2 separate regions of the Homo sapiens genome follow, and region 1 is linked to region 2. Evidence: fine-mapped expression QTL. A gene starts in region 2. The other region holds a variant in brackets. All regions are shown on one strand. Distances are between the middles of the regions. Region 1 overlaps GPAT4 (glycerol-3-phosphate acyltransferase 4). Region 2 holds the start of NKX6-3 (NK6 homeobox 3).

The links.
Region 1: its variant is fine-mapped to the expression of NKX6-3 in whole blood (TOPMed, PIP 0.91).

The regions. Positions count from the first base shown.
Region 1 is chr8:41,619,780-41,628,101 of GRCh38, forward strand. GPAT4 (glycerol-3-phosphate acyltransferase 4) reads left to right here. Exons shown (of 13, transcript NM_178819.4): 13 at 1,114-5,222. The coding sequence ends at 1,222. Among named protein-coding and RNA genes, the nearest start is that of NKX6-3, 27 kb to the right of the region's middle. RefSeq lists an enhancer at 3,222-3,321. The variant G/A (reference allele first, on the strand shown) is at 3,211.
Region 2 is chr8:41,647,414-41,655,725 of GRCh38, forward strand. It overlaps NKX6-3 (NK6 homeobox 3), which reads right to left and starts at 3,404. Exons shown (of 3, transcript NM_001364841.2): 1 at 2,698-3,404; 2 at 653-822. The coding sequence starts at 3,079. It overlaps ANK1 (ankyrin 1), which reads right to left. Exons shown (of 43, transcript NM_000037.4): 43 at 5,812-8,312. RefSeq lists an enhancer at 5,921-6,714 and silencers at 6,242-6,291, 6,312-6,381, 6,402-6,741.

The DNA.
Region 1 (8,322 bases), 28 kb before region 2:
CACATTGTAAACCCAACTGTAGAGTCTCAGGGAATAGATTGGCTCTCAGATGATGGCCTTTTAAAAAATGCTAGTGTGGATTGTGCACTCACTGTGTGCCAGTCACTGAGCTGCTGGGGCCCTGTGTGATCGTCTCTTTCGCCCTCACAGTAGCCGCAGCGCTGTAAACAGTGTTCCCATTTTGCAGATGAGAAACTGAGACTCAAATCACTTTTTTCCAAAGTCATAACATTAGCACTGGAGCTAGATTTTGAACCCACATCTCACAGACTTTTAGAGCTTGAAGGTTTAACTTCTGCCCCATGTTCCCATCTCTGAAGTTTAACAAAGACAGAGTGGCTGCTTTTAAAATCTATGCCTTTGCTATGGATTTTAAAGGGTGTAGCGGAGAGACTGAAAGCGGGCTTGGATTTTTATAAGTTGTTGAAGGTGGTGATAATTCTAGAGTGTAGGCACGGAGGGGGCCAGCAGGCAAGAGGCAATGGGACTGTAATGAAACAATCCCAAGTCTGGTGGGTTGGTTTGGGGCTGCTGCAGGGAGGCACGGGGGCAGTGAGGCTGGAACTCTGAGAGGCAGCCCCGGAGGTAAACCTCCATTCCTGACGGCACTCTTTTTTTGAGCATGGAAGAAGTCAGAACACGCGTTACCCCTTGTGTTAGCTCTCTGCATGAGTTCAGAGTATCCCTGGGTCTGAATTAAACAAATGACATTTTACAGATAGATTTTACAGATACGTTATGAGTCGATATTTCTTAAAGCATGTCTACCTTCCATAATGCCAGAATTCCTCCTTTTCCTTTGTGAGGTGAAGATGAATGTTAGAGTAGAAAGAATTGTAAACTCCTTGGTAGGTTTAAGCAGTTATCAAGTACCTTGAATGTGAGTAGTAAATTCTCACCCAAGGGCAAGGGTAGACCTTTTGAGATAGAAAGGGTGGATATTGGGATCCCGGAGCCCCAAATCCCCTGAGGTTGTCTTGGTGAGAGTGCCACGGGGTACCCTGTTTCTGGCAGGTTTTTCTTGGTGTTTGGGCAGCATGGTGCATCTCCCATGGTGTGAGCGTGGCTGGGAGCCCTCTTGGCTGTTACTACATCCAGCCTTTGTCTCTCCAGGGATGGGGGCCTGAAGAGGGAGAAGGTGAAGGACACGTTCAAGGAGGAGCAGCAGAAGCTGTACAGCAAGATGATCGTGGGGAACCACAAGGACAGGAGCCGCTCCTGAGCCTGCCTCCAGCTGGCTGGGGCCACCGTGCGGGGTGCCAACGGGCTCAGAGCTGGAGTTGCCGCCGCCGCCCCCACTGCTGTGTCCTTTCCAGACTCCAGGGCTCCCCGGGCTGCTCTGGATCCCAGGACTCCGGCTTTCGCCGAGCCGCAGCGGGATCCCTGTGCACCCGGCGCAGCCTACCCTTGGTGGTCTAAACGGATGCTGCTGGGTGTTGCGACCCAGGACGAGATGCCTTGTTTCTTTTACAATAAGTCGTTGGAGGAATGCCATTAAAGTGAACTCCCCACCTTTGCACGCTGTGCGGGCTGAGTGGTTGGGGAGATGTGGCCATGGTCTTGTGCTAGAGATGGCGGTACAAGAGTCTGTTATGCAAGCCCGTGTGCCAGGGATGTGCTGGGGGCGGCCACCCGCTCTCCAGGAAAGGCACAGCTGAGGCACTGTGGCTGGCTTCGGCCTCAACATCGCCCCCAGCCTTGGAGCTCTGCAGACATGATAGGAAGGAAACTGTCATCTGCAGGGGCTTTCAGCAAAATGAAGGGTTAGATTTTTATGCTGCTGCTGATGGGGTTACTAAAGGGAGGGGAAGAGGCCAGGTGGGCCGCTGACTGGGCCATGGGGAGAACGTGTGTTCGTACTCCAGGCTAACCCTGAACTCCCCATGTGATGCGCGCTTTGTTGAATGTGTGTCTCGGTTTCCCCATCTGTAATATGAGTCGGGGGGAATGGTGGTGATTCCTACCTCACAGGGCTGTTGTGGGGATTAAAGTGCTGCGGGTGAGTGAAGGACACATCACGTTCAGTGTTTCAAGTACAGGCCCACAAAACGGGGCACGGCAGGCCTGAGCTCAGAGCTGCTGCACTGGGCTTTGGATTTGTTCTTGTGAGTAAATAAAACTGGCTGGTGAATGAACTGGGGGACTTCTCCCTTTACTTTCTCCCCTGGCTGTGGCCCTGAGTAGCAGGCTTCTCGTGAGGATTCCCGTTCTCTTCTGGGAGCATGGCCCTGGGGCTGCGGAGAAGCCAACTGACTGCTGGAGCGAGGAACCCTGCAGCTCAGAAGGTGAACAGCTCGTCTCAGATGCTTGCAGATCTTTGGTTAATTTAGAATTTCCAGCACAGACGTGGATTTCTCCAGAGACGGGGTGTGTGCGGGTCGCTGATGTGAGGCCTAGGGGAAGCAATGAGTAAACTCCAGGGTGGGGGAGGAGCAAGGGCCCGGGGAGGGCTGCAGAGGGGCCGGGGCGGGGCAGGGCCTGTGCTGCATGGTGGCTTCTGCAGGGGAGGGACAGGGGAGGGCTGCAGAGGGGCAGGGTGGGCAGGGCATGTGCTGCATGGCAGCTTCTGCACAGCCAGAGCAGGCACCACAGGAAAAGAGTCGGCCACTGGTGCCTGCTGTACAGTCACAGTGGAGGCAGAGCCAAGGCCAAGCAGCCCCTGTGGGTTCTGGGGTTTCACCAGTTTCATGCTCCTCAGCTCCCCATTCATGCCCCACCAGCCCTCACTTGGGACCCATGCTCCCTCGTGGCACAGTCATGATGCCTCTCAGGATTTTGTGCCTGTGGTGCTGAGTGTCACGTCCCCAAGGTCGCCCTCTGGCCTGCAGTTCAGGGAGTGGGTGGGAGTGAAGCTGTGCTCCTGGGGCTGCAGACAGATCCACTTTGCATGTGGTACCTGCTGGGTTGGCCCTGCAATCTCCTTTTCTCTGCACCTACCTGTGACCTCCCTGGGAGAGCCTCCCATTTCCTCACCTGCCCTGTTGCCAGCCCGGGGGAAATCTTTTTGCTCTCAAATGAAGACTGAAAAAATAAAGTCAGTGTTATGACTAATAAGTCTCTTAGGAACTGTTTTACAAAATGCTTAAGAATAAAAAGTGATTTTCAGCTTTTATAGGTGATGTTTACAGTGTTTGTAAACCAACTGGAGGGATCAGTAATTGGTCTTAAAAGATCAGGTTCTCTTTTAAAAAGTTCATCTGAAACTTTATG[G/A]TTTGTTACTTTCGTGATTTGCATAGGTATTTATATATACACACACACACAGGTTTTGCTTTTGTCTCACATTCAGCACAGCTGTCTGCGGCCCCTGCCGGCAGGTGTGGCCGCACCTGGTGTGAAGTCACGTGGAGTCAGTGCTGTGGAGGGAAGTCCTGTGCGGGCCGGGCAGTGAGGAGAGCACTGATTCACGCCTGCAGAAACGTAACCTCCCCTTTCCGTGTATGCCTTTTACCATCATCCAGGCGACTGCTCCATCCTTTTAAATTAGGGGTCCTGCAAGCCCCAAGTGACCCATAGTCAGAGTATCTGGTTTGGGGTAACCGAGTTGGTCTTATGGGGCAAAAACTCAAGACACTTAGAAACATGCAAAGTACAAAATAATGTGTTCCCTCCTGTTACCCCAGCAAGGGTGGGGCTGAGCTGGGAATGACACCCAGTGGTGTAATGAGTGGAAAGTGCTGGTCAGCTGCTAACCCCCCTCCAAGCCTGCTGCACCTTCACTTCTCTGCATCCGTCTCCTGAGTCATAACTAGGGACTTGGCTAGATGACCTCAGAGACCTCGTCCACCTCTGAATTCTCTGTTTTTAAGCCCATAGTTCAAACTTTGGCTTTGATCTCTGAAGTCTTCTGGGTTTGGAAATACGGGAAGTCAGCTTTGAATCCATTGCTTCTCTAAAACATCAGGGCTAGTGGAACTAACCCACTTGAGGGTGACCTCAAGGGCTTTAGGCAGCCATGGGGCTGGGGCCATACTGCTCTCAGGCTGGGCAGTATCTTCATTGTGGTTCTCAGACAGCCTTTTTTACTCAAACATGAGACTTTCCACCCACCAGTTAGGGAACTTTTTTTTTTTTTTTAAACACGGAGTTTCACTCTTGTTGCCCATGCTGGAGTGCAATGGCACAATCTCAGCTCCACTGCAACCTCTACCTCCCGGGTTCAAGTGATTCTTCTGCCTCAGCCTCCAAGTAGCTGAGATTACAGGCATGCACCACCACACCCAGCTAATTTTTTGTATTTAGTAGAGACTGGGTTTCACCATGTTGGTCAGGCTGGTCTCCAACTCCTGACCTCAGGTGATCCACTCTCCTTGGCCTCCCAAAGTTCTGGGATTACAGGCGTGAGCCACTGCGCCCAGCCAAGAGGGAACTTTTTAATAAAGCTAGTGGGATTCCCTTGACAGCAGAACCAGCCTTGGGACTTGATGCTTCACCGTGTCAGAATCCGTCCCTGGTGCTGCCTTTCAGAGAAGAGGCTTGATGTGTGAGGGGTCAGGGGGAGTGCTCCAGATCCCTGAAATGCCCTTCCCAGACCAGTGACAGGCATTTTTGGGTGCCATCGTGTGACCTTCACGGCACAGCAAACAGTGGGCACTAACCCTGTTGTCCTGTGGAAATCTGGGTCTCTGAATCCTGCCATTTCCTTCCTGGAATTGGCCAGGAACTTGATTTTCTGGGCTATTGCTTGCTAGTGTCCCCTGATGCATGAAGGATCCCCCCATGTCATAGGTCCCACCTGCCTGCTGTGCATCCCGGGTGGCCAGACTCGGCTTCTCCAGGTGCACTTGTCCCAGGTGGCCCGGTCCGTAGGCTGGAAGGGCAGCTGCAGGTGCACTGCCTCGCGGACAGGTTAGGATATGGCCACGCAGCCATCCATCTTCTACAGCACGCACACCCCACTCTCTCCCCCAGTCAATATGTCTCTCTCCGATGGGAAAGTTAATAAATTTTGCTCTAGATTAAAAGTATTGATCATTTCATTTGTAAACGATAAATAAAAAGGGGGAACTTTTCATTGCGCCAGGGGTGGCACCTGGCGTGTGTTGCGGGGGTGATTGCGCTGGCTGCCGGGGGGTGGGCTTCTCATATGCATTCTGGCCGGCCAGCTGCATTGATTTCCTATTAGTCTCCCAGCACCACCCAGTAACACATCATTTCAGTACCTGCTATTAATGGTCTTTTGATAAATAATCACTTGTAAGTCAATAAATTTTTATTAAACAGTGTGGCTCTTTGATTTATTAAAATCCGACCGTGTTTGTCTGGGAGAAAAGGGATGCCGAATTGAAGTGGAGGTTTTCATACATCTTCCTGACGCGGAGCAGTCACCACACACTCCAGAGAAAAACAATTGCATTTTAACAGAAACAAAACGGCCGAGTTTGGAACTTGGGCCCAGGCAAACTTTATCTCCGTCAGCCTGAGGCTTACTCTGCAGGGATCAGCTGCAGGCTGGAGGGCGCCGAGTTGAGAACTTTGTGTTGGCCTCCAAGAGTGCCCAGGTGCCAGGGCTGGATGCCTCTGCTGGGCTGCGTTCTGAGATGGCACGTACCGGCCCTCTCCCAGCTGGGGATGCACCCTGGGGCAGGCACCCTTTGTCAGCAGACATCTGTCATCAACAAGAGAAGCTCGTGTGGCAGGACCCTTTAGCTTCCTTCCTGGCCAAATCGCCACCAGAGTCACCTGTGGCAGGAAGATGTGGCAGGAGACAGTCTTTTGCAGCAATCGGGCTGTGTGGATTATTTCTTACAGTGTGGGCCAATAGCTGAAGACTGGAAATGCCTTTTTGTGAGATTTTCATTGGCATAGAGTTTGCTGTAAAGAGTTTGGCACTTTATCGAGACAAATATGGCCCCAAACAGATGGTCTTACATAGATCAACCCAACCACTGACGATACAACCAGAATTCTTACCCAGGGGAAGTTGTAGGAAAGGGAAAACACTTTTTTTTTTATTGATCATTCTTGGGTGTTTCTTGCAGAGGGGGATTTGGCAGGGTCATAGGACAATAGTGGAGGGAAGGTCAGCAGATAAACAAGTGAACGAAGGTCTCTGGTTTTCCTAGGCAGAGGACCCTGCGGCCTTCCGCAGTGTTTGTGTCCCTGGGTACTTGAGATTAGGGAGTGGTGATGACTCTTAATGAGCATGCTGCCTTCGAGCATCTGTTTAACAAAGCACATCTTGCACTGCCCTTAATCCATTTAACCCTGAGTGGACACAGCACATGTTTCAGGGAGCACAGGGTTGGGGGTAAGGTCACAGATCAACAGGATCCCAAGGCAGAAGAATTTTTCTTAGTACAGAACAAAATGAAAAGTCTCCCATGTCTACTTCTTTCTACACAGACACGGCAACCATCCGATTTCTCAATCTTTTCCCCACCTTTCCCCCCTTTCTATTCCACAAAACCGCCATTGTCATCCTGGCCCGTTCTCAATGAGCTGTTGGGTACACCTCCCAGACGGGGTGGTGGCCGGGCAGAGGGGCTCCTCACTTCCCAGTAGGGGCGGCCAGGCAGAGGCGCCCCTCACCTCCTGGACGGGGCGGCTGGCCGGGCGGGGGGCTGACCCCCCCACCTCCCTCCCGGACGGGGCGGCTGGCCGGGCGGGGGGCTGACCCCCCCCAACCTCCCTCCCGGACGGGGCGGCTGGCCGGGCGGGGGGCTGACCCCCCCCCCAACCTCCCTCCCGGACGGGGTGGCTGCCGGGCGGAGGGGCTCCTCACTTCTCAGACGGGGCGGTTGCCAGGCAGAGGGTCTCCTCACTTCTCAGACGGGGCGGCCGGGCAGAGACGCTCCTCACCTCCCAGACGGGGTCGCGGCCGGGCAGAGGCGCTCCTCACATCCCAGACGGGGCGGTGGGGCAGAGGCACTCCCCACATCTCAGACGATGGGCGGCCGGGCAGAGACGCTCCTCACTTCCTAGATGTGATGGCGGCCGGGAAGAGGTGCTCCTCACTTCCTAGATGGGATGGCGGCTGGGCAGAGACGCTCCTCACTTTCCAGACTGGGCAGCCAGGCAGAGGGGCTCCTCACATCCCAGACGATGGGCAGCCAGGCAGAGACGCTCCTCACTTCCCAGACGGGTTGGCAGCCGGGCAGAGGCTGCAATCTCGGCACTTTGGGAGGCCAAGGCAGGCGGCTGGGAGGTGGAGGTTGTAGCGAGCCGAGATCACGCCACTGCACTCCAGCCTGGGCACCATTGAGCACTGAGTGAACGAGACTCCGTCTGCAATCCCGGCACCTCGGGAGGCCGAGGCTGGCGGATCACTCGCGGTTAGGAGCTGGAGACCGGCCCGGCCAACACAGCGAAATCCCGTCTCCACCAAAAAAATACGAAAACCAGTCAGGTGTGGTGGTGCGTGCCTGCAATCGCAGGCACTCGGCAGGCTGAGGCAGGAGAATCAGGCAGGGAGGTTGCAGTGAGCCGAGATGGCAGCAGTACAGTCCAGCTTTGGCTCGGCATCAGAGGGAGACCGTAGAAAGAGAGGGAGAGGGAGACCGTGGGGAGAGGGAGAGGGAGAGGGAGAGGGGGAGCGGGAGGGGGAAAACACTTTCTAGTGTTTCTAGTAAACGTTTTTATTAAAGCAAATAGTTGGAACACCTTCTTCTTGACCCTCCCTCGTCCAGGCTGCTGCTGCGGACTTCCCATTCATGCTTAGTGTGGCAGGTAGGAACACACAAGGGCTTTTGACAGCAGGACTCTCAGTAAGAAGTGTGGCTGCAGGCCCTAGTGCGCTCCAACCTACTGCAGGCCTTCTCTGGGGTTGTTAGGATTTCCTTCTCTCTCCTGGTCTCAGGGGACCTTGAAGGCGGTTAGGAAGCTGGACGGCAGAAAACAAACAGGTATGAATGTCCCGCAGAGCAGGCAAATGCTAGTAGAGTGGTTTTCAGGAGTGTGGTCCAGGCTGTGCCCATGTGCAGGAGGCTGGTCAAGGACCTAGTTTCTCTTCCAAGGACTTCCAGCCCCGCCCCCAGGAATGTGCCAGGCTGGCCAGCGAAGCCGGAGGACACCATGGTTGTGGATTCCCAGCACACGGGGAACTGTAGGAGCACCTGGCATTTTACACATAGAGACTTCAAGTCCACTTTCAGGGTTAAGCAGGACACTTCTGAAACGCTTCACTGGGGGCTTCCCTCTAGCCTGCGCTGGCTCCCCGACACCTCACTTCCTGTGCCCACACCCATCCCACTGCACTGTTAGGAGCACTTTGCTGGGGAGGCTGAAGAACCATCTCAGGCTTTCTCGTACTCCATGAGGTTACTTCCTATGCAGGAGTCAAATACATTAAACTGGGAAAGGAATGGCTCTTGCTTGTCAGCTGCC
Region 2 (8,312 bases):
ACTCTAAGGCGGTAGAAACCGGTTTCCCCGGGTCTATTTAGGGGGCATTTGGGGCCCCTGCGTGTGGAGTGGGAGAGCCTGGGCTCACCCTCCCTAGCCCTGGCGTGGGCGACAAGGCTCCAGGCCCCTGAAGCCCATCTGATCCTGCTTAGTAGAAGGAGACGTTGTCTTCATCTTAAGGATTGGTAAACTGAGGTCAGCTCCTTTTGCTGACTGGAGCATCAAGCATGAATCTGGGCCAGAGACTGCCGACCGTGCTTGGAATTTTTGGCCAAATACGGGGGGAGAGGGAAAGCCTCAGGTTGGAGTCCCCCACATCTGGGGTTGAACCCCAGCTCTGCCAGCTCTCCCAGCTCTCCCAGCCGGGAGACACTGATCTTCATCTGCGAAATGGGTGATGATACCGACCCCCCGGGTTGCTGAGAGGATGAAATGAGGTGCCGCACATAAGGCTCTGAGAATGGGGCTCAGCCTTTCCCGGCTATGGTTAATTACCACAGGCTCCAGGGTTAGGCAGGCAGGCAGTGCCCAGACACCAGGACAGCTGCCCTCTGGGGGGCTGCGTTGTGTGGCCACCTCTCTCCAACGCAGTGGCCTCCTGTCCGGCAGGCTCCTCCCTGCAGGGCAGGTGCCATCTCCCGCACAGACTTACCTTGACCTGCGACTCGGTCATGCCCAGTGAGTATGCCAGCCGTGCCCTCTCGGGGCCAGCCAAGTACTTGGTCTGCTCAAAGGTTTTCTCCAGGGCAAAGATCTGGTGCCCCGTGAAGGTGGGCCGGGTGTGCTTCTTCTTGTGTATGCTGTCACTCAGGGGGTCTGGGGCTGGCAGGAGGAAGGAAGTGTGGGGTTAGTAGAATAAGTGGGGACCCTGCGGCTAGGCACGTCTGGCAGGGCAACCACCATGCCTGCCCCTCTCCCTCCTGCAGAGGTTTCCAGGACACCAAGATTCCTTTCCCCTGAGCAGCATTCTTGATATTGGGGAACAGTGACTGTGACCTCTGCCCCGCCTGGATGGGCAGGGCTCCGAGAGGGCAGCTGCCCTAGTGTAATGGGACTTAGGGGCAGCAGAGCCTCATGCCTCTCTGTCTAAAGTTCTCAATACTCGCTGATGTTGCCTTCCCCTGAGGGGCAACAGGAGTTCCCTCTCTGTCCCAGGGATGTCCCTTCAGGTCACCCTCCTCCTATAATTAGGGACCAGGGCCTGTGAATTCCCTCCACCCCCGGCTTCCGCCAACTTCCTTGCTCTTGAGACTCAACTTCCCAGGTCTCCAGGAAACCAGGGAGGGGCAAACCTGACGCCCCAAGCTGCCACTTCCCCATGTCACCAGGCCTGGAAGTTATGTGGCTTCAACCACCCTGGAGAGCCTGGCACAGAGGCCAGAGACCCTGACCCCCAGCCTGGCCAGGGCAGCAGGCTCGGGAAGGAGCTGTGGGCAGTGGTTCCCACATGTCAGGCCTCGTTCTGTGCAGTCTGACAGCTCAAGTTACAGGTGAGGAAACTGAGGCACAGAGAGAGGAAGAGCCCTCCTGAGAGATCATGTTCAAGTCTCTCTGCCTTTGCCTTCATTAGCCACTGACTTTCTTGGCTATGTCCCTGTGTGTGTACCTGCATTCAGGACTGAAGAGGTGGTGTGTGGGATGTGGAGAGGGGAGGGGGAGATGGAGGGAAGAGAGAGTCAGCTGAGGCTTAAAGCACCCCTGAAGCCAAGCCTAAAACAGGATCTGAGAGAGGAGGCCTTCACCCCCAGGGGCACAGCGATGGGTGGCAGCCCATGGAGGGGTGGCTGTCAGGCACTGTGACCGGCAAGGCAGAGTAGCAAATGGGGGGACAGGTGTGCTTTTGGGGTTCCCTAGGTTGGCCCCAAGCCCCCATTGGCGTAGGAGAGCCCGGAGATCAGACAGAAATGGAGGCCCCTGCCTGACGTGGGCAGGGCTTCGGTGGCACGGAGAAGATTCCAAAAACTCTCACCTCCCTGCCTCCCAGCAGAGCCTCACCTGCCCTGCCACCTCCTCCAGTAACCCTGACTGGCATCACGGGCCCACCCTCTGAAAACCTTGGCTGAGGGATGGGTCGGCTGAGAAGAGGCCCCCTGCTTCCCCACAGCCAAGGCCAAGTTCAGCTGGACTCAGCAGCAACTCCCCGAGACAGGCTACTTGGTGTGGCTGCTGTTGCTAGAAACCCGAGGATGTGGTGGGCAACAGCCCCCTGGCTCAAAGGCTGGACCCGGATGGGGTCAGGGTGCGTTCTGCACCCTTGAGTGATGCCAGGGCTCTCTGGGAAGGTGAGCTAGGACATTTTCCTCACGGGGGTAGCATTTGCCTGCTTTGGGTGAAGAAGTGGTTGCATGGGCCCTGGGCTGCAGAAGCCAGCTGGGCTGCCTACTGGACCTCGTGCAGGGCAGGCGTGGGCTGTGGGGCCTTCTCTACATCTGGAACTGCCGGGGGCCCTAGGAGGGCAGCTGAGGTGGCTGGCATGTGAGGGGGGTGGCTCAGACACCTGTGTCCAAGCACTGCTGGATGGGAAGGAGGAGAGGGTGGAACTCAGCCTGCACTGAGCTGAGGCTACGAGTCCAGGGGTTAATGGCGACTGGGGGAGAGGGCGGAGGTGCAGGGTGCCCGGGAGGAGGCCCCTCCTCGTCCTCTGCCCCCCGGGGCCTGGCGGGTGCCGGGAGGTGGCTGGGGAGGACCCGTACTCACTGTTGCTGCACTGCCGCCCGCCTCGCCAGTCTTGGCCCGTGTCCGCCCAGCAGTTCCGGGTCCGGGTCGGGTACTCGTTCCCAGCCTTGGAAAAATTCCCTACCTGGGGGCTGTAGTAGACCCCCTGCGAGCTGAGCCCCCCAAAGCCTGCCACGTGGGGGTAGCCGGAGAGGAGGCTGTTGTTCGGCGCAGCCACGGGCCTGCTCAGGATGTCCGTGATCCCGTGGGGGGTTCCGGCGGCCAGCTGGGGGCCCAGCCCTGGGGGGCTGAGCTTGTAGAAGGAGTTCTGCACAGAGTACTGGCACACCGGGGCCTTCATCTCCGGAAACTGAGCCAGCGGCGTGTTGTTCAGCAGGAACGTCCCCTGCAGGTTGGACTCCATGATCTCCCAGTCAGGACAGGGAAGGCTTCTCCAGGCCCCTAAAACCCAAGAGCCCACTCTCTAGCCCCAAATCTCATGGCAGGCCTGGAGGCTTAGGACCGTCTCCGAGCTCCTGACTGCCTCCCACCTAAGGCATGGGCCAGGCCCTGGCCCAGGAACCGGCACCCGATCAGCTGCTCGGAAGTCAGGTGCTCGGGGCAGGTGGGAGGCCTCCCCAGGGCTCCTGGCCTCTCTCCTTGCCCTGGCCGGACAGGGTGGCCCCCTAAGCCTCAGCTCAGACCCCCTTTCTGCCTCTGAGTCGGGGGACCCTCCATGAGAAGTTTTAAGTTCAGAGAAGGAACATTTCCCTGATAAAGATACGGCCCATTAGAATACAGGCCGGAGACTGGCTGAGCCGCCGGAGCCGCGCCGCCATTGGTCGGGGCGCACACGGGCCTCACATTGGCTTTTCCTAGACAAATTGCACTTTGAAAGATTGACTGTACAATCAGCCAGGGTGTGTGTGTGTGTGTGTGCGCGCGCGCGCGCGCGCGCGCGTGTGTGTGTGTGTGTATGCGCGCGCGCGCGAGAGAGAGACAGAGAATTAGCTCTAGAAGCCCTACTCATCGCCGGAGGGTCCATTTGCTCCCCGCAAGTCTAGCATCTAGGAAAAGGTGAGCGTCTGGGGGCCCCTGGAGGCTCCCAAGGCAATTGGAAGTCACTGTTCCTACAGCTGCTCCCCTAGGGAAGAGGAGGCTGGACTCAGAGGCCACTGTCCGGAGCTGCGCCGGCCCCTTTATGTGCACATGTCCAAGCTCCACAGGAGAACGCAGCCGCTTCCTTCCCTTCCGCATGCGGGGATGGGGTAAGTGGCATAAGATGGGGGTAAGTGCGGGGATGGGGTAAGAGGCTGAGTGGCATTGCTTTCTGGGGGATGCAAGTCCCTGTGGCTGGCTTGAGAGCCTAGGGTGGGAGCCTGCTGGGAAGAGGGCAGCGCGGGGCGTAGGCAGCCCTGACAGTGCCGGGGTGTGAGTCCTCCAACTGCAGGAGGCTGAAGAGAGGGCCGCCCTGCACGCATGTTCTTGCCTCCACCTCTGGTCGGCCTTCCGTGACCTCCCTATCAGAATCTCTTCCTCATTTGTGCCTCTGCTGGAGCAATGGCCATGCTCTGTCTGGCGTGGTGCCCGGGTTTGAAATCCCTGATGGCTGAGAGGGTGGTGGAGCCCCGTGCCGGGCACTCCGTCGGTGCTCAGTTAGTAGTTGATGCAGTGGACTGGGCTGAATCACAGAACATGCATATGCTTTTTTTTTTCTCGAATAAATTTTTACAACATACAAGGCTCTATTGGGGGAAGCTCTCATTTTACAAACAGGAAAACCAAGGTATAGAGGAATTGGAGCCCACTTTCCAGGTACATGGGTGATTTCTGGACCAGGCAGGATTCTTCCCTGCAGTTTTTCTCTAAAACTGGAAACTAGCATGCCACTGGCCTGAACATGTAAAATGCTAGGAAAGACTGTGACTGCCAGACAGATGGACTTCTGCTCCTCTCTGTGCCTGGTGGCCCCAGAGCCCTTCCTGACCAGGCGTGGGCTCTGCAGGGCTTGCTCTCTCACTCCCCAGAGGCCGCCCTGGTAGGTGGGAGACTAGAGGCACTGCTTCACTGAGCTTCTCCTGGGTTTCCAGGCCGTCTTGGTTTTCAGTGGGGAGCAGAGGACCCAAGGCTCAGGGCAGGATTCCTTCTCATGCAGAAGTTGACCCTCTGTAGCACAGGGATTTAGGTTATGCAAGAAAGATCTCACAAAGGGTGTGGAATGATTCCCTACAAATTTGGTTTAAAGAGAAAAGAGCTACGTCTTCGTCTGAGATGGCTTTGCCACCAGGTCGCGTGCCACAGCCATCTGGTAGACCTGGTTCTGGTTCCCGGTGTCACCACCCAATTCCCCCCAGGCAACTGTGATTCTGAAACTGCATTTTTAAAAGCCCCATGGGTGCTGCAGATGACCTGCTGCGGTTGCCCACTGGCCTGAACGGCCTGTCCGATTCCAGGAGAGAGGCTGGGAGTGGGGTGGGGCTGGGGTGCTCCAGGGGCCTTGGGATTGTGACTCCGTCATCCCCTCATGATGGGAATTTATGTGGCAGGAAAGCCGCAGCCAATGATTTGATTCTTAATTAATGCCAAGCCTGACAAAGGCGTTGGTGTCTGGCGCCCCTAGGATGAGAAACTGAAGAGACTTTAGCAACCACCTAATCCATTCTCCCATTAGAGAGATGAGGAAACTGAGGTCAGCTTGGTGACCAGCCTTGCAGGAAGTGTTAGCAACTAGTTAGGAATAGGGCAATTTTTTCCCTACAGCAAGAACAAGTTCTTGAACTTTGAATGGCATTGAGTACTGGGGCCAGATGCCTTCCTAGGGAATGCTGGGGGGCCCCCTCAGTGCATGCCAGCTGGGGGCCTGGCCAAGAACCCTGGTGGGTTGTGGTGGCCCCTCCCCAGACCCCCAACTTCTCCCCATCTCATGGGAGCCATCAGGTGGAACAGAAAGCTACTCTGCCACCTCTCTGGAGGCATCTCTCAGGTGGGTGGTCCTGATTAAAGGGTTGTCCAGGCTTCTGGGAGGACTGGGCATTGGCGGGCTCTCTGGGACCTGAGCCCCACCCATAGACTCCTTCACATCACAACCCAGGCTTTACGCTGGCCTCAGCACCCCTAACCCCCCAAAGACGAGCGGGAAGGAGAGATAGAGCCCTGTGCCATTAGTCCATTTCTTTATTAATTTTGACATTGGTTCGGCTGGTGAAGGGAGAATGGTCTATACATCAGAGTAGGGTAGGGGATTCTCTCCCATAACAGAGCATGTGGGAGAGTCAAGAAAAGATCCATTTTCATAACAATTAAAAAAATCAAGGTAATTTCAAAACTTCTAAAAAGCGTCTAATGTGCAGACTGCAGCATTCTCTAGGCATCGTGTGGAGACCCCAAACTCCTCCCCTAACGGCTCCTACTAGCAGCCGGAGCGTGCAGCCATGCCAGCCGGAGCAGAGGTGCCAAAGCGGAGTCTGGAGCTGCGGGGTCCGCGGGGGCGCTAAGGGGGCTACTGGGTTGGCTGCAGCAGCGACCTGGGAGAGGAAGGTGCAGGATCGAGGCGGGAGAGGCGAGCCCTGAGCCCAGCTTCCTTGGGCCGTCACCGAATCGGTCCCAGCCGCGCTGTGCGGCCCCCCTGCCGTGGCCCCCGGGATGGGGGAGGATGGAGGGGGGCGCCTCTGCGCCCTGGAGGCCGGGCCGGGGTGGCCTCTGGCGGAGACGGCAGCCGTCCGGGCTCGCCCTGCAGCTCCTCCGACGCAGCCTCGGGGAAACTCAGGCCCGGAGCTAGAGCTTCCTCTCCCTGCCCGCCCCTCTAAAGGAAGCAAAAGCAGCCCCACCCCCGGCCGACAAGGCGCCTAGGCCGCCCCGGGGCCTGCCTGGCCGGGGGTGCACCGGGGCGGATTTGTGTGGGAAGCAGGGCCCCTCTCCGCTCACAGGCCCCGCGGCCAGGGGGCCTCTGACGTGGAGGGGGCTTCTGTGCTACTTGGAAGGTTTAAGTGTGTCCCGAGGACACTCCCGCAGAGCGGCGGGGCGGACGGGGCCGGGCCGTCCACACCGCGGCTCCAGGGGCGAGAGGAGCCAGCCCTGTCTCTCTCTCCTGGCCCTGGGGGCGCCCGCCGCGAGGGCGGGGCCGGGATTGTGCTGATTCTGGCCTCCCTGGGCCGGAGGCTCTAGTGGAACTTAAGGCTCCTCCCTGATGGCACCGAGGCGAGGAACTGCCAGCTGTCTGTCTCCTTCCTGCCTTGACCCAGAGCCTGGCCCCGGCCTCTGGGCGTCCAGGCTCTCCGCCTCCGACTCTACTCTCACCGGCCATGCGGTCCGGGGAGCCCCCTGGCTCGCCTCTCCAAGAGGCCACAGGGGCTGGGCAGAGGGGAGGCACTGAGGCAGGACAGGGAACAGCCTCGAGCCTGGCACCTGCACCCAGGGTCCCCAGCCTGCAGGCTGCCTGGACTTAGAGCACCAAGTTCACTCTGGGAGACCCTGGGTGGTCCTGACTTCTAAGACCTGGCAGATACATTCACTAGCCCTACTCCTTTCCTTCCTCTTTCACTGAAAGACAGGCCACAGCTCCTTCTCCTGCAGCCGCAGAAGTCCTCAGGAGCTGCGCTGTCAGGCTCTGTACGTACTGCTAAATGTTTCTATTGGTTTGCATAGTATTTATTGTTTTTCATATACACAAGGCTGATTACTGTACAGTTTACACTTTGAACACGGACTATGATATAGTGCTTGAAGACATAGAAAACCTCTTCTCTATGGACATGCTGGTGCAATCCTGGGTCAGCCACCGGCCTGTCCCCCAACTGAGAGAGGAGACCCTTTCAGATGGGGTCCTGGCTCCCTTTGAGTCCTACAGGTAAGCCTGGGGGTCCTCGCCTCAGATTCTTAAGTCCCTAACACAAGGAACCCCGAATGCACTCTTCAAGGTAATGATTTTCCATTGGAAGATGATTCGTATTGAAATTGGCAGAGAGAGAGACAACATAAAAAATTCCAATTTATCCACAGCAGAGTCTATACAGCTTCAGAAGTCACAGTAAAATCTGTGTGTAGATTCAGTGGAGGCGAGTGGTGTGTGTGTGTGTGTGTGTGTGTCCTGAATGTCATGTAGAGCGATCTGGGAGGAGCGTCACCAGGGAGTCGAGGGGGTGTCACAAGTGGAATGGAGGTATGTGGGTTGGGGAGGGTGGGCAGATGAGGACATGGCTTAAGATTAAGGTGTTAAACTGATTTCATGCCTAGTTTTCTTTTTTTTTTTTTTCTTTCCAGGAAGCCCACATGGATTTCTGACAGATGAGGTTGGGAAAAAGTACCCTGTACGAAGTCAAAACAATTTAAAAAAAAAACCCCAAAACCAAAACCCATCCCCAGCCACAAAAAGCCCTCATTCACTTTTGCGTTCGCAGGCTCTCCTGCGCTTGTTTTCTATCCCTCTCTCTCCCCGCTTCTTGCTGCTTTTGTGTCCTGGTTCCGACAGATCAGCTGTCATTGCAAGAGGCAGGATTGAAGCCTGGAGGTCATGCGTCTACAGTCAGTCATTCATGCCAAGAGGGGACTAGCAGGAGTCCCTTACAGAGGTCATGCCGTCAGCCCAGAGGAATGTGTGCACCGCTGCGGTGGCCCTCAGGTCCAGCTCTCCTCCTGTGTGCATGGCAGAGTGTGTGGGG